Linked DNA regions of Homo sapiens. The protein of the gene in region 1 purifies or fractionates together with the protein of each later gene. This does not show direct contact. Each region holds a gene or a part of one and is shown in the gene's direction. Other genes may lie near its edges.

Region 1 (7,456 bases):
GCCCATCAGCCTCTCCAACTTCCCATCTCTGTCACCTCCATCTCTGTCGCCTCCATTTAGTGAAATCACCGGTTTTTGTTTGGGTTCCCCTCCCTGTTCTAGGCTCTGGACACTGCCTCCAGATAGTAAGCTGGGGTCATTATGGAACTTAATTCATTCGTTTCCCTTCTCTCAGGGATCACGATACTGCACTGCCTGTTGGCTAATGTCTGAAAACAATGATTTCATAGATACATACATATATGTGTATATGTATATATACAACCCTTTCCTAAATATGTATAAGTATACATACTTATGATTTATATGAATGTATATATGTGTGTATATATTATATATCTTATACATATTATATATTTATAATATATATTTTATATATGTATATAAAATATAAATATTATATTTTATCATATGCATATATTTTATATATCTATATATTTATATATTATATATAACATATTCAGTATATAAATATATATAAAATGATATATACATATCATATATTTTATATTATATATATGCGTAAATACATGTATGTAATATATAAAATATATATTTTTTTCAAGTGATACTCCCATCTCAGCTTCTCCAGTAGCTGGGACTACACTTGTGAGCTACCGTGCCCAATTCATTTCACATATTATGCTCAATTTTCCAGATATTTCTAGTGATAGGGTAATTCTGCAGAAGCAGAAATCCAAATGTAATTGCTAAAACCTAAATTAAAACTGAATTGTGTTCTTTAATCTTAAAATTCACATTCAAAGACACAAAAAAGGGGTGCCTCTTTATACTTGACAGTAAAGCTTGTTGAAGATGTTCTCTCAGGTAGCTGTTAGCATCTCTAACTTCCCGCTCTTTAATTGGGTATATTCTGACTTCTACCATCACCATATCACTGAAACAGGTCTTATTACACCATCTATAACTATCTTATTAGTACAGCTAAGGAATATATTTAGTTCTTTTTATTTTCCTTCTAGTTCATTTCAGTCTGAGCTGGAAAATGAGTTATTTCCTTACTTGACTTTCTACACCTGTGCTATCCACTCTGGTAGCCACTAGGCACATGCGGCTACTGAATATTTGAAGTGTAGCTAGACCAAATTGAGAGGCACTGGAGGTGTAATACACACACCAGGTTTCCAAGACATAATATGAATTAAAGGACGTGACATATCTCATTAGTTTTTATGTTAATTGCATGTTAAAATGATAATGTCTTAATTATTGGGTTAAACAAGCGCTATCTCTAAAATTAATTTCATCTGCTTCTGTTTACCTTTTTATATCACTACTAGAAAATTTACAATGGCTTATGTGACTCACATTGTATTTCTAATGGCCAGTACTGCTCTATAACAACCTCTTGCACCGACAGAGCCCTGCTTTAAACTTTCCTTTCTTGGTTTGTGGGTCTCTGTTCTTCCCTAGTTTTCTTGCTACCTCGCTGTCTGCTCCTTCTCAGACTTTTCTGAGACCTAAATCTGTTGTTCTAAAATCGTAGTGTGCTGCAAAATCACCTGGGTTGCTTGCCAAAAATGCAGATTCTTGGATCTTATCTGCAGATATTATGATCTGGTAGACTGGCTTGGAGGACCGAGATTCTGATTCAGTAAAATAGAACGAGAGCTCAGAAATTTAGAATAATCTTTAGCCCTATTCTTTCTCATTTTACCCTATACATTCCATAGGTATCATCTTCCCTATCCCACCCAGCTCCAAAGATAGAACTACCACTCACAGACTAACATCTCCCAAAACTCTTATCTTCCAGCTGAGATCCCTCTCTTATCCTGCCCTCTTCTTCCAGCTGCCAGCTGTATATCTTCACTTGGAGGTACATTTGATAAGTTTGAGAAAACTTAGCGTATTCAGTATTTAAATTCTTATCTCTGTTCTCCCTAGCCCATTCCTCCTTTTGACCTCCCAGTTATCCAAGCTAGAAACCTGAAATAATTATTTACTACTTCCTAACCTCTATATCTAATCAGTTAAAAAATCTGACCAATTCTTACTTAACTTCTATCATCTCTATGCCTTTTAAATGTCCTTCATTTAGGGTTTCTCAATCTTGGCTCTACTGAAATCTTGAGCCAGTTAGTTCTTTGTTGTTGGAGGAGGGAGGTTGTCCTGTGCATTGTTAAGTGTTTAGCAGTTACCCTGTCCTTTACCCCTCTAGATACTAGTAGCACCCCTTGCTGGTACAGCCACAATGTTTCTAGACATTACCAAATCCAGTGGGAGGAGGTGAGTGGGAGGGAATCACATTTCAACCCATAGAGCCACTGCCTCACTTGATGGAGGCCCTCTTCTTAATCATCTGCGTTAGGGCAAGAGTTTCCACCTGGCCCTCTAGCCCAGGACCGCACCTCTCTTCTATTCTCTACACTCCTGATAGTTTTACAGTTTTCACAGGTTAAAATTCAGTATCTCTAATATGGCATAAAAAGGGCATTATTTGTTACCTATGCGCCTTTCCAGCTTTCCACTCTACCCATACTGAAAGGCTTTGCAGTTTCCTTAGGGATGGATGAAAGGCGTAAGAAGTGTTAACTATAGACAGTAACTAAGCTAGTAGCTTATGAGATAAATGCAAAACTCCTAGCATATTTTAAATATAGAATATGAGTAAGCATGTACTTTGTGAAACATAGGCAGGATTATGTAAAATATATAGAGTAAGTTAGTAAACTATAAGACATGCCAAAGTTAAATAGAAATATGATGGAATAGAGAGTCACTGATAGCCAAAAAGGGATGGAAAAACTAAGCAATGAGCAATCATGACATCTCTGGGCTATTAACTATGTCACCTCTAAATCAGCCACCCATTGGTCACACTTAGAATAGTCTCATATGTGCTCTGCCCAGGAAATGCAAATAAAACCTGTATCTGTTCAACAACTTACCGAGTAAGCTCTGGCTGTGACCAGGCATACTTCTCTGCGTCTATCCAATAAAGCAGGTGTGTACCATTGGCCCAAAGCACTTTCCACCTGTGGGCCTCCTTGCTGACACCTCACCTCTGGTCCTCGTAAGTATACCACCAGCGGAGAAGGCTGTTGTGGCAGATAGGATATATGAACATTACTTAACCCATGATTCAGGTGATGGCGTCCTTCCACTTGCTTGCACCTTATCCTAAGTGTGTCCACTTACCACAACTCTTTCACCTTTTCACTGGATACTTAAATTGAATAGGCTATATTATTTAATAATCTTAATTTGATCTGTGAGCCTTCTCTGTTTCATTACCTTTAGGATAGCTTGCCTAGTTTACTAGGAAGTCACAATTGCATCAAATTAAGTTCCATGCAGGCATTAATCTCCTCCCAGAACGCTCCTGCTTTAGCCCCTATCATTTTATCCTGTTTATATCCATGTGTTTCTGTTATGACACTTTTCACACCACACTGTGATTAACTGTTTATTCCTCTCTCACTAGTCTGTGAGCTCCTTGGAAGCAGAAATAAATTTTGTTTTTGTCTAATCATTGCTTAACAAAGTGCCAACCACAAAGTAAACAGTAAAAGAATTACAGAATGCAACCTCCTGCAGACACAGTTGAAGAAACTATTCATTGTTTTTTCCTTTCTGTCATTCCCTAGTTCTAGGCATCAAATCGCTTGCCTAGTCGGCGAGCAGTATGAAAGTGGTGGGAGGACCATAGACGCACTGCAGAAAACAGCTTACAGTAGATGCAGAGAATTACTAGCACGCTTGGGCCTTGGTGGGGCTTGTCTTATTTACCTGTTCCTCATTTTTCACTGGGAGTTTAAAACAAGTTTTTGTTTCCCTGCTATCCCGACCTTAAGATAATTAAAAGGCCAAGAATCTTTAAGAGACTTTCAGTTCTCCTGGATTCTAGATAATAAAACCCACTTTAAAAATTAATGAGCACCTATACTGTGACAGACAATAAGGATACAATAAAAATACCATTTCTGTTCTGAGAAAATTTACAAGCATCTTCCTGGAGCCTACATTTTACTCGAAGTAATAGCTATTTTTATAGCTTACAATAAAAGATGCATTTTGGAATATATTTCGCTTGAATTAAAGAAATAGAATGTGAGACCTTAAACAAAGGGTCCGTTCTTCAGATCCTTTTAACTCACACTCTCCTTCAGGGGTCGGGGTATTTGGGTGCAAAAGTTTACTATCACGCACAGGTGTAGAGATGTACAAATACGATCCAATTTAGTGGAAACTGTGTCTTGTAAGAGATGGCCCCCAGGGACCTCCCACATCCCTAACCTCTCGGAGGACTGCAAAAGACAGCATCTGAAGCACCTCTTGCCTCGCCTTGAATCATTTGCCACTTCACACCGCCCCGCCCCTTCCGTCCCCGGAGGCGGCCAGCCTCGTGTCCGCTCTAGGCTTCTCCCGGACGTCTCTTTGTGGTGGCGTTGAGCTCCTCTAGCCCGCGCTTGCCGTCCTCTCAGTGGTAGCGCGGGGACTGGCTGGGAAGCGGTCGGTCGAGTGTGGCCTGTGTGGACTCGCATCTTGCCCGAAGCCGGGCGGAGGAGAGCTCAAGCTAAGGTGGAAGGGGAACGGGGGAGGCCCTGGAGAGGAGTGGGAGAGTGGAGACAGGCCCCTGGGTGGCGAGGGAGCCCGGCGGCGTAACGGGGGAACCCGGGGAGAGGTGGAAGAGGAGGCCCGCACACGTGAGGGGGATTTCCAGCTGCTGGCCGGGGCCTCTCACCCCTACCCCCGCGTAGTTCATCTGCGACGCAACGCCTTGTGTCAAAGCCCAGCACAGGTTCTGCCGCCTCTGACCTCTCTGAGGGTCGTCGCCTGTCCTGTAGGCCCAGGACCTTCAAAGCTACGATTTTGACGTGAACTACTTAGGGTTATTGTGGCCTTGAACTCCGTAGACAGCCTTTATCTCTGCTATTTTTGTTTTTAATTTTTCAAATCAGAATCCTTTCAACCCTGGCCGTTTGAGGCCAAAGGCTAATGTTTATTTTTCCATCCCGGTACCATGAACTTAGTAGGTGCCCACTGGACGGATCTGGTGGTTTTAGTCATTTGTAAATAGCCGTGAACTAAGGAAGAAATGTATGTGGCCTCTTACAGGGTTGGGTTGGGAATCATTGCAGGGTTTGGGGGCACTCTGTTAGGCATGATAACAACAGCTCTAGGCTTGAGTTTCTTCATCTGTAAATGAGAATGATAGTACTTTCCTCAGGGTGGCTATGAAGGTTCCTGAAATGATGTTTGCCCTAAGCACTGTACCTGGCATGTCCTGACTACCACACTTGAACCAAATCTTTTCAATGGTGTTATGGACTATATTTTTGTTTTAAATTGCCTTTACCTTTCTTATTGTACCTAGATCTTCCTGAGGATTGAGACTCTCCTCTTTGCCTTTGGGCCAATTGTCATGTTATAGGTAATCAGTATTTGAAGATGACAGGCACAAAAAGTTCACAGTTGCAGGATGCGTGACTTTTGTAGGCGTATGTACCCATAACTAAAGCTCCTGATTTGGGGAGTAGGGGTAGATTAAATTATATTTTTATTAAATAAGAGATAATCTGGGAAGACGCTGTGTAAGTTGTAAGACCCTATGCCAAGAAAAGCCTTTAATTTTTTTCATAAAACATTTCATGAAAACTTTTTTTATGTTTTTCATAAAAGAGACATCAGTTGACCTAAAAACGAAGTAAATTTTTTGTTTTGTTAAATTTCCTCTAAATGTTACTTTTCCCACTAATAAGGAGACTGGTAACAAACTAAAAAACTATGTTAAGGGAAATTAACATATTGGAACGGGTATTTCTGCATCTCCCCTACAAATTTAGGAAGAAAAAGTGAGTTCCCTAATTAATCCTCAATTCCCTCTGCTGTTGTTTTGTTAGTGGCTGTTTTGCTGTTTTGTTAGTGGTGGGGGGGGTGTTCTGCATTAACACCCCGAAACCCCTGTGATAATGTCCTAGACCTTGCAAGCATCATGGCCGCGTGTGAGTTTTCTCAGCTTCCTCAACCTAATCTACCTTCCTTACCGTTTGGTAATGGGCAGCAAGAGAAAATGCTTAAGAACTCTTTAAAACTACTGATGTTTTAAAGTAAAGCTGGATAATTCCCTGAGCTGGCAGCGTTCAAATTGTATGAGGAGCAAATACTTTTGTTTACTGCCTAAGGTAGTAGGAGAGGTCTAATCAAAGTATTCTACATTTATTTCATTCTCTTTTGATTCTTAGGTAGTGCTACAAAAATATTAAATGTTAATCTTAGAATACAAAACATGCTGTATTTAGGCACTAAAGTAAAGTGATGTCAATCCTAAGGCAGCAGAAAGTCTTAATTTTCTCCTATGCAGAATTTTTAAAAGACAATGTCAGATAAGAAATCTGGACTTAGGAGAGACTTTATTCAAAAGGGTTATCACAAAAGGAGAAAAGGGACTTTTGCAATGGGTAGAACCAAAAGATCTGCAAGAATCTCCAAGGAGTGAACTGTGCTAGAAAGTTTTGGTGTGAGGAAGTAGGATATAAGGGTGGCTTGATCTAATAGTAGATCTGAGAATGTTATTCCTTGGCTCTGGCTGAGAGTTGGCCAAAGCTCAGGAACCTGGGGGAAGGAGAGAAACTAAAGTTTGATTAACAAGTATTTTGTTCCACTTGATCTGTAGGGCCAAGCAGATCAGCAAATTATTCATAAATTCATAGTTGAAGCAAAAAATGAGAATTTGGAGGGTCTTTCTTTTGCCTGGTCATAGGTAAACAAGGGGGGATCCTTGAGTCTTACCTAACTCAAGGGTGGGAGGATTTTTTAAATTATAGCTAATAAGGAGCCAGCACAGGGCTCAAGCAAAATTCAACTTGCCAAAAAGTGTTTTTATTATTTGACATTGAAAAGTATTGAAAACCTGGATTTTATTTATACCATGGTGAATCTTTCTAAAACTGGGGTTTTTGTTATTGGTTTGCTTGTTATCCTATAAGAAGCTGGATTTTTTTTCTTCCATGAAGAGTACTAGGTTTTATATTGACCAAAGTGTTTGGAGCAAATTAATCTTTTCTTGCGTTAAAAGATTATTAAAATAGGAACTGGTAAGATGCTATAACCAGTTTAAATGACAATTAAAAGTAGACATGTTTATAGAGCAGGAATATTGAAATAAATGTGCAAGTGAGGGCAAAATTGGCTGCTTCCACAGTCAGACGGAAGTCCATTGAACCTTCAGCAGATAGAATTTACAAGAATACAGACAATTATTTTGCATTGCTGTTGGTTATCTACAGTTGACAGTTGTAAAATAGCTCCAAGATGCTGAAAGAATCAGACTTCCCATGTAATCAGAATGTGAAAACCTGAAAGGCTGTGCTCTCAACAGTGCAGTTTTCTATTGAAGCAGATGTTTTTCTCTGTCCTTAGTGTATCGAATTTAAATCTCCTCTCCCTCAATAATCTTCCCTAGAGTTAGACTTCCTGTAAGGCAAATACA
Region 2 (7,028 bases), on another chromosome or scaffold:
CTCATTAACTTTTTTTGATAACTAGTGAAGTTGAATTTGTTATTGTTTTATATATGCATTTTTTTCATTTTCTGTGAATTAGCTGTTTGACTTTTTGTGTATTTTTCTATGATGAGTGTTACTGTTTTTCTTATTTGTTGGTAACAGCTACTTACGGCTTTGGGGTCCTTAGCTTTTAATATTTGTCACAGTAATTTTAAAATTACCTTTTAAGTGGTTTATGATTGTATATGTTAAGAAGTTTTGCATTTTTATGTAGTAAAATGTACTGCCCCCCTTTTTTTTTTTGAGATAGGATCTTGCTCTGCTGCGCATGCTAAAGTGCAGTGGCAGTGATCTCTGCCCACTGCAGCCTCGACCTCCCAGGCTCAAGCAATTCTCCCACCACTGGAGTAACTGAGACTACTGGTGAAGGATATCACACCCCGCTAATTTTTTCTTTTTTTTTTTTTTTTAATAAACAAAGCCTCATTATGTTGCCCAGGCTGGTCTTGAACTCCAGGGGTCAAGAGAGTTTCCCACTTCAGCCTCCCAAAGTGCTGAGATTACAAGCATGAGCCACCATGTCCAGCCTGTACTGCCTTTCCTTTTTCCTTTATGATTTCTACAGCACTTGTCTGCCCAGAAAATATTACCTGTTGTAAGGTGAATTGTATGTTTATATTGTATTTTATTTTATTATTATTGTTTTTTGAGGTGGAGTCTAGCTCTGTCTCACAGGCTGGAGTGCAGTGGTGTGATTTTGGCTCACTGTAACCTCTTCTTGGGTTCCAGCGATTCTGCTACCTGAGCCTCCCAAGTAGCGGATTACAGGCGTGCACCACCATGCCCTGCTTTTAGTAGAGACGGGGTTTCCCCGTGTTGGCCAGGCTCGTCTTGAACTCCTGACCTGAGGTGATCTGCCTGCCTTGGCCCCCACAGTGCTAGAATTACAGGTGTGAACCACCGTGCACAGCCTTGTTCATGTGTTTTGTTAATTTTTTACTAGAACTTTTTCTGGAAGTTTTAATAAACTTAAAAAATACTTTTACATCTATGTGGACATATCTGTGTTTTGACATATTGTGTGTTAAGATAAGTTGCTAGTTTCCATTTTTTTCCAGATATCTAGTTTCCATAGACTTGATCCATTTCTTATTGCTTTGGTAGCAAACAATTCTGATTCATATACTAGGTATATTTAACCTGGGGTCCATTGTCCTCTAGGGGTTCCACCGATCCCTTGATATACACAATTTTATGTAAGTCTGCATATGTTCATTTTTTTTTTTTTTTGAGATGGAGTTTCGCCCTTGTTGCCCAGGCTGGAGTGCAATGGCACGATCTCAGCTCACCGCAACCTCCGCCTCCCAGGTTCAAATGATTCTCCTGCCTCAGCCTCCTGAGTAGCTGGGATTACAGGAATGTGCCACTATGCCCGGCTAATTTTGTATTTTTAGTAGAGACGAGGTTTCTCCATATTGGTCAGGCTGGCTCGAACTTCCTACCTCAGGTGATCCGTCTGCCTCGGCCTACCAAAGTGCTGGGAGTACAAGTGTGAGCCACTGCGCCTGGCCTCCTATGTGCATTTTTCTGGGGAAAAAGTGATAGCTTTCATTAGCTTCTCAAAAGAATATATGATATAAAGTTTAAACAGAGGTTGACAATGACTGTATCTGGGCCTTATTCTTAGAGCATTATTGCATTGTTTTATTTGCTGTAGGACGGTACACAATTTAAATATGTGTTTGTAGTGCTATATCCTATATAAAATCCAATACCCACTCACAATTCTATTTTACAATTTTCATAGCTGATTTTGACTGTTTTTGCAGATCAACTTTAGGTTCATTTGGTTAATTAAGAAAAAAAAGCCAGCTAATGGTTTTGGTTACAATTCCATTAAATTTACATTGGGTGAATTTATAACCTTATACTATTTTTTTTAATTCATCGGTATTACACACTTCCTGTAGACTACCAAAAAGCACTATTTCCTAGGAACTCTGGGAGAATTTGTGGTATCTGTGACTTTTCAGGAGGATGTTTTCTTGGTGCAGCTATAATTTTAGTAGGGATGAATTAGGAGACAATATAAGGTTATATTTCTGTTTTCAATCTGGTTTAGGACATGATGACATAAAAGTAGTATCAGTATGAAGTTAGACGTGGGAAAAATAAGTCGCAAAATAAAGTATTGTACAATATTCGAAATCAAAATCCTTTTTTGTTAAACACAGACAATTTTTTTTTTTTTTGATGGAGGAATTTGAAAAGGTACCTTACTCCTTTTCTGGCCAGGGTGAGGCTTAATCTCATAATAAAGATAAAAAATTTTTATTTTAGTTTCCTTGGTATCATTAAATTATTATATTTTCTGATAAGGATGTTTCCCTAATTATTAGAATAAATTTATTTTCCATTAAATCTCTTTTTTATGCTGATTGCATTGAAAAAGATTATCTTGATTAATAAGGATGTATTTCAGCTGTAATTCTACTTTATATCTTTTAAATAATTGATTCAGGAGTCAGTTTATTGCCAAAATAACATTTTTATTGAACTAAACTTGTAAATTAGTGGAGGAATGAAAAGAAGAAATCACGGAAATATAGAACTCAAATGATAAAATATTATTGGCTTTATGAAAATAAATCTAGAAAATGGATATAAAATATTAAGATATTATTGGCCTTTCTTAAGCAGTTTATCTTTTTTAATGAAAAATCCCTGCCTTTGGGTCTTTTTCAAGCAACACTGCTTATAACAGCTTAGATATTTTACTTTTTTGTGAAAGTTGAGAACTTTTTCTAGTTCTGGTTTATTATTATACTTGGTTTCTAGACTATAACAGATGAGGAGTAAAAAATTAGAAGTGCTACTTGAGAAATGCATTTTGGTAGGGAAAAGAAATGATGTCCAGCATCATGATAGTAAAGGAGGGTTATATTTCTACTGTTAGAAGCAATAATTTATAAACTTAGTTATGAGGCTATTTAGTTTGGGAATCAGTATTCCCAGAGCTGAATCAGTAGTTATAGAATGTTCATTATTAATTGATGATTTTATTAATGATTCTGAATCAGAGAATATTGTTATATTTAACCTATTTCAGAAGGGAAATGAGCGTGTGATTTAGTTTAGAAGGATTTCTATTATAATTTTTTCTTTTAGGTTTTGAGGCCTATGGAAAATTTATGCATTGGCTGCATACCTTGTTTTTCAAGGGAGTCACATGTATAAAGAAGCTTGAGAATAAAGTTCCTGCCTTTTGAGTTTCTAACAGTTGTGGGGCATATTATTGATTGAAAAATTAGGTGATGTTTTAACATTATTTAAACAGATTACCTTAATGTCATTAATTAGCTTCAGAGACCATAGTCCTTGTCACTTTCCTAGAGTACTTAGAAATTGCCTATCCTTTAGTGGAACTCTCTTTTAAACTTCTTGCTTGTTTGACCTTATATTTTATTAGAGAGGCCAAGAGTATTTAAACATTACTTTGCCATGTTCTTTCTCAGATTGTCCTGCCATCCACAGAGTAAATCAGGGGCTCCTCCAGGCATTTTAATTTGTTGAAAACAAAGAAAATTAAACTTTTTATAGATGATTCAGCTTGCATGGTGGAAACCATTTTGTATTGGAGACAGAGAGTGAGTGCTGGGGAGCACTTTCAGTTAAGAATAAGTAGATCAGGGCTACTAGTGCTTGTTTATATGGTGTGAATGTTTCAATTTTAAATTTCGATCATTTGGAGTTTAGAATCTTTAAGAGGATGACTCAGGTACCTCAGCCACTTTTCAAAAAAAAAAAAAAAATACCATAGGCCTAAGGGAACAGTTATACCTTCCTGAGAGTCTTTATAGTTGGACCTATATGAATATGAGAATCTGGGAAATGAAGATGACTTATTAACTTTGCCATCAGAAATATGCACTTATTCATGTCTGCAGTTTTCCATTGCTCAGAATATTATAAGAAACATTTTGTGTTCTTTTATATCCAATAACTGGTAGTAACTAGCTGTATTTGGGAGAGAGGACCCCTTTGTATGATGGTGATGTGAGGTAGTAATGCCATAATGTCTTACTATATATGATCCGTTCTCCCTTTCTTTGTTGTTTGTATAGCCCTATGCTACTTTGGGGAAGTATTATCTGGTTTGATACCTAGAAATTATGTGTCCATCACTCTTGGCATTCTAATAATTTAACATTCTAATAAGAAATTTGATTTGTATGTTAGAATAGTTGTCCTCAGAACTGTCAAAGCTGTAAAAGGAACTTTCTTTGGTTCAGTAATTCTCAGTGATAATGCCTACCATTTTGTAGAAGGATAAAGCTAAAAAGATGGAAAGGGAATCTGCTGTTTTGAGGACCAGGAGAAAGAGTTTGATGGAACAATAAAGGATGACTTGACTGCTGCAGCTTATTCCCAGCTAAGGCTTTGGAGCCTTAGATGTATATCTGCCCTGTTACTCTTATTAGATAGAATGTCATAGGAAAAAGCATGTAAGGGAAAAGAGAGACTGCTTTTGAACTCTTTTATTTCCTTTTAGGTGGTAAATGTCAGAAGTGAATTCCATTAGAGTAAAAACTAAGCTGCCACAGTATAGGAGACTCCATTCCTGTTGTTTAAAGATGACACATGTTTTTTTCTCATGTAACCATACAAAGTAAGACTGTTTAGAGTTTGTAAGTGGTTTTGCCTTAACATATGGCTTCCATCACTAGGTGAAACATGATTACTCTCTAGTTTTACTAGCTAGAGGCAAGGAAGAAAGAACAATGGGAGTGCATATTCTTTCTTTTGAGAGCATGATATGGAAGTGGCACATAGCACTTTGACTCATGGTTTATGTGTGATCATTTAGTCATTGGGACATATTTAGCTGGGAAAGGAAGTCTGGGAAATATATCTAGCTGGATAATCATATGCTTAGCTAAAACTAGAGAATTTTATAAAAGAGAAATGGATATTAATGAATAGCATTTTCTGCTATATAAGGAATTGGGAGAAGTGGTCTCAAAGTACTTCATAATTTGGTACTGAAAACTATTTCTCTTTTAAGATTTAGGTTCAGTTATAGTATAACTGTATATTTTCCATTGAAATGGTATTTTGGGGGTTTTGTGTTCATGATTTGTGGTTGGGGTCCCAGTTATTATAAATATTTATATTTGATAGAATTCTTCCCCTCTCTGCTTGCCGTTGAAAACATTATGATTAGTTTTGCAAGAATTAGAATTTCAAATTTTTAAAACTCAGTGTAGTATTTTTGAACTTTACAGGTTAACTTGCTTAATTCAAAAGGACTGTAGATGAATCGAGTGACAATTGTTTGAATAGTTTATGTTTGCATTATTTTATCCAGATTTTTTTTTCTCTGTTTATAACTGTATGTATAAAATATACATTTTCCATGATGGAAAATATGACTTTTTTTTTTTTTAATTGAGACTAGGGTCTCACTCTGTCACTCCAGCTGGAGTGCAGTGGTGTGATCATGGCTCACTGTAACCTTGACCTCCTGGGCTCAAGGGATCCTCCTGACTCAGCCTCCTAGGTAGCTTGGACTACAGGCACATGCCACCAAACCCAGCTAATTTTGTAATTTTTTTTTTTTTTTTTTTTTGTGGAGATGGGGGTCTTGCCTTGTTGCCCAGGCTGGTCTTGAACTCCTGGGCTCAAGCAATCCTCCCCTCTTGGCCTCCCAAAATGTTGGGATTACAGGTGTGAGCCACTGTGCCTGGCCGAAAATGTGACTTCCAAGGGCCTTGTAATATACACAGGTAAAAAGATTGTGGTTGTAAATTCTCTGCATATAGGCAAAACTTACCTGATTAATAAGTAAGTAGTTAAAAGTAGCTTTCTACAGAATATGACAAGTAAAACAATATATATTTTTGTAGGGTACAGAAAGTGGTGAGAGTGTTGGAAGGAGATCAAGGAGATTTTATGGGAGTTGTATTTTAAGGAATGAATTAGACAGATAATACTAGTAAAGAGAATAAATAGTATGTTCAAAATCTTAGAGCCAGAAAGGAAGGTAGTGTGTTAGGAGAACTCTTAATAGCTCTGTGATACAAATCCTTGGTTTTTGTGAATAAAAGTCATAGTTGCCATGGCACCCACATAGTATGCCTATTAAAGCATGTTGTTGCTCTCAACTGGAAATTCTCTAATTTTTCTTTGCTTTACTTCATATATTTTTTAAAGGCATTTATTCCTTTCCACTTTTATATTTATAGTTATTTGTTTTTTGTGTAGTACTTTATAAGTTTCCTGGGGTTAGGAATCATATCTTATTGATATATCTGACAATTTTTTAAGACAAATCCTTTCTAATAAGGTATGATAAGACCACTATTAAAAGTGTAAGATTGCTTTCCACCATGCCTTGCTTTCCACCATGCCTCCCTTAATATTCAATAAATACTTGCTTATTGAAAGAATAGAATTCCTTCGTTTTAGGTGGAGGTGAAAAAAAAAAGGGAATAAGATATTCTAATTATTTTCTTTTATTTAACTCATTATCCACAGATGTCAGAACTTTTTTTTTTTAATCAAACATGTAATTTACTCAGATGGCAAATACCCACATGATGAATTGTCATGGGAAGATTTGACAGGCACTTTACATATGAAAAATAATAAATAGTTGCTTTTAGGAAAAACAGTTTTCAATGTCATCCATTAAGAACCAGTTGCTTGTTAATAAAAAGTTTCTAAAATATGACTGTGAAGAACCTACGTATGTAAATTAATAAGGGTTTGAGGAAAAGATGGAATGATATAATTATTTTGTATTTTAGGTTTGTATAATCCTCTTCCCCCACCAAACTTACTTTAAATGATTTAAACATTGAAAGATAAAAATAAATAAAAAAATGAAGAAAGAAAAGAAGAACAAAAGAAAAAACAAAAAATTTTCCTAAAATCAGTTAGTTATACAGTGAAGTGGAAAGAACAGTAGTTTTGTATTGGGACCTGGGCAATTAGTGTCTCCTCTCAGTGTTCTTTATCTTTAAAATGTGGTGTTACCACCT

Evidence for each region. Proteins that work in one complex are often made in the same cells at the same time.
Region 2: the proteins of ARL14EP (region 1) and ATF7IP purify together in Homo sapiens (affinity purification with mass spectrometry; 3 studies listed by BioGRID and IntAct, with this or other methods). This does not show direct contact.

What each region holds. Positions count from the first base shown.
Region 1 is NC_000011.10:30,318,658-30,326,113, forward strand, and holds the start of ARL14EP (ARL14 effector protein), read left to right. Parts: upstream 1-4,446; 5' UTR 4,447-4,545; intron 4,546-7,456.
Region 2 is NC_000012.12:14,368,680-14,375,707, forward strand, and holds part of ATF7IP (activating transcription factor 7-interacting protein 1), read left to right. Parts: intron 1-7,028. UniProt on the Homo sapiens protein: Recruiter that couples transcriptional factors to general transcription apparatus and thereby modulates transcription regulation and chromatin formation. Can both act as an activator or a repressor depending on the context.